Linked DNA regions of Homo sapiens. The protein of the gene in region 1 purifies or fractionates together with the protein of each later gene. This does not show direct contact. Each region holds a gene or a part of one and is shown on either strand. Other genes may lie near its edges.

The links. Proteins that work in one complex are often made in the same cells at the same time.
Region 2: the proteins of KRT7 (region 1) and CEP44 purify together in Homo sapiens (affinity purification with mass spectrometry; one large-scale study listed by BioGRID and IntAct). This does not show direct contact.

Annotation. Positions count from the first base shown.
Region 1 is NC_000012.12:52,238,661-52,244,154, reverse strand, and holds part of KRT7 (keratin, type II cytoskeletal 7), read right to left. Parts: intron 5,476-5,494; coding exon 5,380-5,475; intron 2,684-5,379; coding exon 2,519-2,683; intron 1,144-2,518; coding exon 1,018-1,143; intron 1-1,017.
Region 2 is NC_000004.12:174,299,915-174,304,410, forward strand, and holds part of CEP44 (centrosomal protein of 44 kDa), read left to right. Parts: intron 1-2,124; coding exon 2,125-2,272; intron 2,273-3,788; coding exon 3,789-3,935; intron 3,936-4,332; coding exon 4,333-4,455; intron 4,456-4,496. UniProt on the Homo sapiens protein: Centriole-enriched microtubule-binding protein involved in centriole biogenesis. In collaboration with CEP295 and POC1B, is required for the centriole-to-centrosome conversion by ensuring the formation of bona fide centriole wall.

The DNA.
Region 1 (5,494 bases):
CCCCCACCACCCACAGCTCATCTGGAAATCAGCTTTCCGAAGCTTCCACATGTGTGCCCTCCCCCTCTCTCCACTGCAGACACCTGCACAGGCTGAGCTGCCCTGGCCACACACTACTCAGCCAGGGCTGGGGGCCCTTCCCCCATCAACACCTCCAACCCCAGCTTCCAGCAAAGCTCATCCTCCCAGGCAGTCTCTCATCTGAGACCCGTGCCCCTGCCATGTGCCAGGTGCTGGAAGAGAGGAGCAGTGAACCAGACAGACAGGGTCCCTGCTCTCCAGGCATCTGTTATATTCCAGTGGAGGTAGGGACCATCAATCACTTAATGAATAAGACAGAACATTTCAGAGAGTGACAGGGGCTTCAAAGAACTTCAGACAGGCTGCCGATAGAGGGGCTGGTGTTTGAGAGTGCCGTCTCTGAGAAGGGGTCTTTTCCTAAACCCCAGGGAGGAGAAAACAACAACCATGGACAGAGCTGGGAGAACCACATTCCAGGGGGAGGCAACGCCAAGTGCAAAGGCCCTGAAGCATGACCATTCTTGGCAAATGCAAGATGCAGGAAGCAGGTTAGCATGGCCAGAGCAGAGTGAGGGGAATCGTGGAAAGTGAGGTTGGAGTGGGTGGGAAAGGGCCATGTGAGTCATTATAAGGTCTTCTGCTGTCCTCTGTCCCTGCAATGAATGATGAGCTCCCAGGGACAGCGCCCTGCAGCCAGAACCAGGTGCAAGCAGAGTGCTCAGTATCAATGTGGAACCAGTGGTGGCTTTCTTCTGGCCAGCCAGCCTGAGTCTCCCTCCACAGGCTCTGTGCACATCCAGGACCTTTCTCCCATCAGCCCATGCCAGGACCTGGCCAAGAACATTCTGTGCTGGAGATCTCACAAGGGGGTCTGAGACAGTGGCACCAGCTTTGGCCGGGAGATGGGAACCTCCTGCTCCACATCCTGAGTTTGGCCTCAGCTGGCCACCCCTGCATGCCCCAAGTAGCAGGGGAAGCCAGGAGGACTTGTCCCACCTGGTTCTTGATGTTGTCGATCTCAGCCTGCAGCCTCTGGATGGCCCGGTTCATCTCTGAAATCTCATTCCGGGTATTCCGGAGGTCGTCCCCATGCTTCCCAGCCTGGGCCTGGAGGGTCTCAAACTGGAGGGGCCATACAGAGAGTTATGGCAGAGAGATGGGCAGTGAGTACAGGTAACTCATCCCTCTCCCCACCCAAGGCCCCTCCCAACTTATATTTTCAGGGAAGGACAGTCTGACTCCCATCAACCTTTGCCCGATGCCAGGAGACCAGACAGCAGTGTGAGGAAGGGATTCATTCTCCTCCAAGCCAGGCAGGGAGGACAGACAAGGCTCCGCAGTCCCATCCCCATGGACCCCAGGGCTCTTCCACTCCCACCATGCCCTTCTGCTGGAGAATCACTGAGAGTTTGAGATTCGCACCCATTCAACACCCAGAACACCCATTTCACAGGTGAGGAGAGTGAGTCTTGGAGAAGAGAAAGCACCACCCAGGGATCACACAGCCAATCAGTGATGGAACGAGGGCCTGAACCCAGGTCTTCTTGTTGGCATACTTGTGTTCTCACCCAGGCACCATGAATGACTCTCTATCTCTGCAGGGGCAGACCTCTCAATCCTTGCCTCGGGATCCCTTCTTCAGGAACACTGGTTCACCCCAGCACCCACTCCTGCTCCCTCAGCCCCTGCACCATCAACTGTCCTGCCACCATGAAGTAGATGTGATGATTAAGCCTCCCAGGTCTAGGGCCCTCACATTCAGGATTTAGTCCCTGCTCTTCCATCTACTAGCTGTATGCAGTTAGGCAAATTACTTAACCTCTCTGTGCCTCAATTTCCTCATCTTTAAATGGGGGTAATAGGCTGGGTGCGGTGTCTCACGCCTATAATCCCAGCACTTTGGGAGGCCGAGGCAGGTGGATCACCTGAGGTCAGGAGTTTGAGACCAGCCTGGCCAGCATGGTGAAACCTCGTCTCTACTCAAAATACAAAAAAAATTAGCCAGGCATGGTGGTGCACACCTGTAGTCCCAGCTACTCAGGAGGCTGAGGCACGAGGATCACATGAACCAGGGAGGCAAAGGTTGCAGTGAGCCAAGATCGCACCACTGCACTTCAGCCTGGGTGACAGAGCAAGACTCCATCTCAAAAAATAGAAATAAAATAAATTAAATTAAATAAAACAAAATGGGGGTAATAATGATGCCTATCTAATAGGGCTGTTCTGTGGATTACATGAGTCAATAATTACATGAGCCTAGTACTGTGTAAGTACTTGCCATATTTTAGCTATTATAATGATTAATCCATATCTATTTCCTCTGCCCTGTCCTCCCATCTTGGGATTTTCTCCAGGGCTGAGCACCACAGACTTAAACCACTGGTGCCTGCCAGAACAGTGGGACCCAGGCCCTGAAGGCTTGAGACAAGTTGAGGAGTAAGGGAAGCTGCCACCAAGGACCCTGGCAGGAGGAAATACGCCCCTGGTGGCCTCACACCTTGGTCTGGTACCAGGCTTCAGCCTCAGCCCGGCTGCATTTGGCCATCTCCTCATACTGCGCCTTGACCTCAGCGATGATGCCGTCCAGGTCCAGGGAGCGACTGTTGTCCATGGACAGCACCACAGATGTGTCGGAGATCTGGGACTGCAGCTCTGTCAACTCCTGTAGGGACCAGACGGGACATCAGGACTTAGGGCAGGATCCTATGCCCACGCCCACCCTGGGATTCCCCACTCACAAAGGAAAGAAAAGAGAGAACAGCTGGGAGTGGGCTGAGTCACCAGGCAGCAAGGGGGCCCAGACCCAGCACACATTAAGTTACTTCATTCTGCCCACCCTTGGCTCCCTGAGGGCCCATTAGCAGTGTCTCAAACGAGAATCTGGCAGGGTTAAAGGGGATAAGGAAAGGGACAGTGTGGTGCGCTGTGGTGACTTCTCACTGTGAGGTTCTGTAGGTGCACGAGCTCTATTGTGAGGGAGGCCATGGGGAATGGATGAAATTATCATATTCCACCATGCTACAGAATACTCTGCAGTCTGTACACCGATGATATGGCTCCAACTACCTGTGGGGAATATGCCCATGGTATACTGTTGCATTAAAAAAAGCATGATGCGTTCTCACTCATAGGTGGGAATTGAACAATGACATCACTTGGGCACAGGGCGGGGAACATCACACACCGGGGCCTGTCGGGGGCGTGGGGGGAGGGGGGAGTGATAGCATTAGGAGAAATACCTAATGTAAATGACAAGTTGATGGGTGCAGCACACCAACATGGCACATGTATGCCTATGTATCAAACCTGCACGTTGTGCACATGTACCCTAGAACTTAAAGTATAATAATAAAAATTAAAATAAAGCATGATGCTATTTTTATTGAAAATGTATATTTCTATATCTTTATGTATATGTAAGCACAGAAAAGTCTGGAAAGGTAGACACAAAGATGGTAGCATTGGGTATAAGTAATCCATTTTCTTTTTTTTTTCTTTTTTTTTGAGACAGAGTTTTGCTCTGTCACCCAAGCTGGAGTACAGTGGCACAATCTTGGCTCACTGCAACCTCCACCTTCCAGGTTCAACCAGTTCTCCTGTCTCAGCCTCCCGTGTAGCTGGGATTACAGGCACCCGCCACCATGCCTGGCTAATTTTTGTATTTTTAGTAGACACGGGGTTTCACCATGTTGGCCAGGCTGGTCTCCAACTCCTGACATCAGGTGATCCACTCACCTCGGCCTCCCAAACTACTGGGATTACAGGCATGAGCCACCACGCCTGGCCAAGTAATCCATTTTCAATTTACGATTTACTTAATTTTTTGGTTGTTTTGCAATGAGTATGTATTACTTTCACCATGAAAACAACTTTATATATATACACACAGGTGTGTTTACACATAAATAAACTAAACTTTCACCATGAAAAGAAAACTTTATATATATGTGTGTGTGTGTGTGTGTGTGTGTACACATGTGTGTTTACACATAAATAAACCATGTGATAGACCCAGGAAGACCTGAGATTAGAAGTGCCTGAAGCAAGCCTCAAAGAAACTTCCCCTGAAATTAATGAATCTGTGGACATTTGCTCTGAGGGGCTGGTGGAGACTGGACGTTCAGGCAAAGACTAGGCTGAAGAACTGGTTTGTAATTAACCTCACAAGCTAATTATGCCCAGCCTAGCCTCTGCCAGGTGACTGGCCACCCTACCTTCTGCCTAAGGCCAGAGACTCACACTGATGAGAGTGGAGAGATTTTTAAATCCCCTTGAAGAAAAAGAGCTGGAAACCCCGGAGGACAAGGGTGAGAGGGAGAGAATAAGAAGGGAAGGGAGGACATTAGAGTGGTGAGTTGGCAGGCAGCTACCCACCCAGCCCCTCTGGGAGTAAATGCTCAGGCAATCCAGTCTCTCCTGACTTGGGCTCCCCTGCTGGCCCTACCTAGCCCACCTTTGAACCCTGTCACAACCTGGAGTCCCCTGACCTCCTCCTGGTTCCTTCCAGTCCCACCCAATCCCCCTTCCTTAGAAATGCTGCGATCATCCCATGTCTCTCCAAGGTCAATCCTGATTGACTCACCCCCACCTCCTCCCGAATCCTTAGCCTGTCCTGAATTCCTGAGTCCAGAAGGGATAAAGGGCAGGATAAATCCTCGCAACCCCTGATGAAGGAAATAATGTATATAATGGTCCATTTCCAAGACAAAGTGCTTTAAATTGGCTTAGGTCAGCAAACTACAGAAGAAATAGGATATACTAGCCCTTTGCTTGAATAGCCAGTGCCTGCTTGTCAGCCCCCAGCTTCTCTTGCCCTCACCTGAACCAAAGAAGTTTAGTCTAAAATGAAGGTTTTCTAGCCTGCAAAATGGCTCACTTTTTCTGTTCTTATCAGCCTGCCCAGCTACTTAGGTCATAAGTCAAATACTTAAAGAGCCCTTGAGCTGACTAGGATTGCAATGCATTGTAGGCTGCAATAAAATGCAGCAAGACAACCTAAAAAAAAACACCTAAAGCCCCAACCCAACAACCAATAGACAACGTCCAGGAAGATCGTGACCCCATAGTACTCAGCCTGTGAGGAACGGAGGGAGGGACCTGTGCACTAGAGGATAAATTGCTTGTTGTGGCTGTGCTGGGCATGCCTGCCCATCAGACACCCATCTTGCAAGACTGTCATTAAAATCTCACTTTCGCTGTTCTCCAGGTCTCTGAGTCCATTCTTTGGGTTTGGACGGATGAGTTTGTTTCTCACACTGACACATATCTGGACTGACACAGAGGCGGGGGGCTGGACCAGATGGCTCCCTGGTTAGAATGGGTAGGATAAGACATGTCACCCAGCTCCATGGTCCTCACCGTCTCATTGAGGGTCCTGAGGAAGTTGATCTCATCATTCAGGGCATCCACCTTGGCCTCCAGCTCCACCTTGCTCATGTAGGCAGCATCCACATCCTGGGGGTTGGGGCAAGAT
Region 2 (4,496 bases), on another chromosome or scaffold:
AACCTTTTATCATTGATTAATTGATGGATTGGTTAAATGTTCATTGGTTACTAGAATGTAAGCTGAAGTCTTGGACTTTGTTTTTTGTTTTCACTGTGGAATCCCCCCATCTAGAATTATGCATGGCACATATTAGGAGTTGATTAGACATTTATTGAATGAATGAGTGTCCAGGGACAAGTCCAAGTTAGATGTTCAAGAGTAGAGGGAAACTTGTAAGTAGAATCCTTCAGTAATGGGCTTTACATATAAGAATGGATATCCATATAAGAATGGATATTCTAATAACTCTTGAGGTTACAGTAGGGAGAGGTAACTCAAGAGAAGGCTGAAAGTGAAAGGATAGAGAGGAGAGTAAGGAGAAAGTTTAGCTCAAGTTGCTGTTATTATAGGCATTATATGTGAGAGGCAGAAGATATGAAACAGATGTAATCCATGTATGTAAAAATCATCTTGATTCCTCAAAACATGAAAATCCTGACCATCCAGAACTTGCAGGGGTTTAACCAGTTTGAGTAGCCAAGTCTTCTCCTTGCCACTTTAAGTGTCAACATTTTAAAAGACATTTTAAATAGGAATAATTCTAAAATATACCAGTATTATCTTGTTTTCTAAATACAGTGTTTAAACATTTAATTTTCTTATTACCCAAAAGCATCATTAAGAACAACAATTTTTAGATTATTATATAACATACTAAAATCTGCAGGGTCTATTGAGATTTGAAATGCTACTTGCTTCTTCCACAGAGGCACTCAGATTGCTAGTCTCCCTGCCACACACATTTAAGCACACACACAACACCCCCATCATTTTGATTCTTTTTTCTACTTTTTCACATTTGTTATGTTTTCTGGCCATTTGCTGTTTTTTGTGTTGGCATCTGTTTTTCTTACTGTTTCTAATATGCTAAGTCCTTAGGAACTAGATAATCAAGATTTTTGAAATTGTTTAACATAAAAAGTGTTAAATGTGTGCCTGGCTATCATCTATGTATAGTGTGCATAAAATGGACAGATTTTGCTGTTCAAAGGTATTTTTTTTTTCATTTCCTGTTTTTGGACTGTGTTTCAGATAGACAAGGTTGCCAGAGGAGTTTTCTGATTGGGTGAAATATTACAGTATTTCAAAGAAACATAAAAGAAATAATTCATATTTGTCCAGTAAAACAAAATGCAGTGCTATCATCATGTATTTGTTCTCTGTCTTACTAAAAATTTGGGTGGAGATGGGGATGTTTATGTGAACATCTTGAATTTTTTGGAAAACATTTGCTTTATATAAGTACAAAATACTGCAATTGAACAAATGTAACTGGCAAATTGAACAAATACCTCCTGTGCTTTGTTGTGGGAAAATCAGTGAAGGTACTTCACATTGAGAAAATAAGACAGGAAACACTACCAGACAGATAAAGACACAGCAGATACTGAGTAGCCTGGGAGTCTTTCTTGGAGAGATCAGTATAGATCAGAAAGTTGAGGAAAGCTTCATGGGAAGCTTGAGATTTGATGAATGATTTGTAAAAAATAAATAATAATTGGATAAGCAAAGAAGAGTGGGATACCTTTCTAGACTGGTGGAATTAACATAGGTAATAATATACGATTTAGAAGGAGCAGTAAGTGAAAAGTAATAGACTGGTCAACCAAGTCACAGTTCATGCTTTTTCCCATCCCATCTTCCTCATCTGTAACTTAGAATTCATAATATTTACCTTTGGAAGTTTGTGGTAGAGAGCAAAGGAGGTAATAGAACAAGTGTTTGCAAAACCATAAAGTGTACTTCAATTTTGTAAGATGGTACATTGCTTTTATTAGTAGTAGAAAATGGAGTAGATCACGTAAGACTAAGCTTTGGAAAATCAATGGTAAATAGTTGGTACTAGAGACCTATAGTAAGTTTTTTGAGCAGACGAACAGTGGTATTTCATAGTAGTCTGGCTAGACTGGTTTCAAATGGGGAATGGAATCTAGAAAGTCTCATGTATCACCTAATTATTATAGCTATAGTGTTAAGTTTTAAATTATTATAAACATTTCTAATATTTTCTTGATTATCCAACTTTGTGGAATTATGCTTATTAAATGCTTATTAAAAATATTTTTCTTTTTTTCCTAACAGTTTGATAAAGGGAGACCCAGCAGCATCTTTGCCCATCATCAGCTATTCTTTTACCTCATACTCACCTTATGTAACAGAACTTATAATGGAATCCAATGTAGAGCTCATAGCAAAAAATGACTTGCGCTTTATAGATGCTGTCTATAAGGTATTTTGAGTTTATCAAACAATAACTATTAGTTATTGAATGATTTTTAAAAATTAATGATTTAGTCATAACTTCTTAAATATATGCAGCATATACAATTGACAGGATATTTTCATTTGTATTTATCTCATTTAAATGTAGTCTCTATTGAAATCAAGATGCAATTCATGTTTGCTTTTTGAATGTTACCTATTCTAATAAATACAGCAACTGGTAAATATTTGTTGTTGGCTATTGTTTGCCCTTTTTAATCAAATTTTAGTAAAATTTGATATACTGGCAGAAATTAGAGAGTAATGTAATTATATTCAATAAAACTTACAGTTTTTTAGAATTATATGTTAATTTAGTTGTTTGTAAGAAGGAACTATTACTGACATTTTTTTTTTATTAAACTGATATATTCTTTGAGGTCTGAGAGCATGTCTTATATTGTATCTACCCTAGTATTTATACTTGTACTATGTGTATACTGAATTTAATCTCTTATTTGATTTTTTTAAAACCCTGCTTTTATCATTAATTTTTGCTTAAGTACTGTGGTTTGTATTAAAGTTAGTTTTTAATGGTAAAAACCCACTTATCAAATGTAGTCTATTTTTTTTTTTTTTTTGAGACAGAGTCTTGCTCTGTCACCAGGCTGGAGTGCAGTGTCACGATCTAGGCTCACTGCAGTCTCCGCCTCCTGGGTTCAAGCAGTTCCCCTGCCTCAACCTCCTGAGTAGCTGGGACTACAGGCGTGCACCGTGACCACGCCTGGCTAATTTTTTGTATTTTAGTAGAGAGGGTTTCACCATGTTGGCCAGGATGGTCTCGATCTCCTGACCTTGTGCTCTGCCCACCTTGGCCTCCCAAAGTGCTGGCATTACAGGCATGAGCCACCGCACCCAGCCTCAAATAGTCTTTTAAAAAAAGCAGAGTTGCAGTCAATGAAATGGGAGCTTTTATATGTAGTCTCTGTTTAATCTTTCTCTTTCTTGCTTTTGATCCCAGAAGACATCCATGGAAGCCTAAGAGGCACTTTTAAGAAATTCTAGAGCTCCACAGAGTAGATTTAGGAAACTACTGATCTAGTGTGTTTTTTTTCATTTTACAAATGAAAAATTGAGACCAAAAGGCCTACTGACGTATCCAAAAATCACATAGTGGAAGAGTTATAAACAAATAGAACTATAGTTTCTGACTCTGGTATGGTATTCTAGTGAACTAAGAAGTTTTTCTAATATCTCTGAAGATATTTACACTTTTTGATGATTGACTATATTTTTCCATCTCTCTGGACAGACATCTGTTCTCCAGCATATCCTTTGCTACCTGTTTTCCACCTGATACCTGTCTTACTGGATCATGACTTAACACCAGCCCTATGAATTACTTTAGTACTCTTTAGTTAATGGCTTGGTTTTCCTTGTCCTCTCAAAGGTGGCCATTATTCCCCTGACCAGGTGGGCATTATCATTTGGAATTTTAGAAATAAATTGCTCCCAATTATTACAAGAGTCTGTTTCCTCTGCAGCTTCTTCGTGATCAATTTAATTATAAACCAATTTTGACAAAAAAGCAGTTTATCCAATGTGGGTTTGCAGAATGGAAAATCCAAATTGTTTGTGATATTTTGAATTGTGTGATGAAAAAGCACAAGGAATTAAGCAGTCTTCAGAAGGTAATTTTATGAATAGATATTAATGCTGATGTATGCTATTAATAGATGGCTCAGTATTTTAATGTATAAAATCAAAACCCTAGACAGCAAATTATTTCATAGTGTAATTACTGTATTATTCAAAGATTTGAGTAACCTTATAAAGCTTGTTGTTTATTTTAAATACTACTCTCTTGTTTTATACACCTGTGACTGGGAACTCCTAGTGTTAAACTAATAGTTCAAACATAATACATTTTCATTACTTCTTAGTTTTTAAAAGTCATGTAGTCTCATTAGAGTCTCATTATTTGTCAGCTATATTTCATATATGAAAATTTAAATGTTAATGGAATTTTAATATATAATTATGCTTTCACACAAAATTTGTTATTTTGACTAATACCTTTTTTTTTAGATTCCATCACAACAAAGAAAGAAAATCAGTTCTGGTAAGTCAGAACCTCCTTTGGGCAATGAGAAAATATCTGCAGAGGCTGTTGGCGTTGATATCAGTGGCAGGTTTATGACCTCAGGAAAGGTATGCAACCACAAAGAAAATATCATATTGTTTAAGAGTTA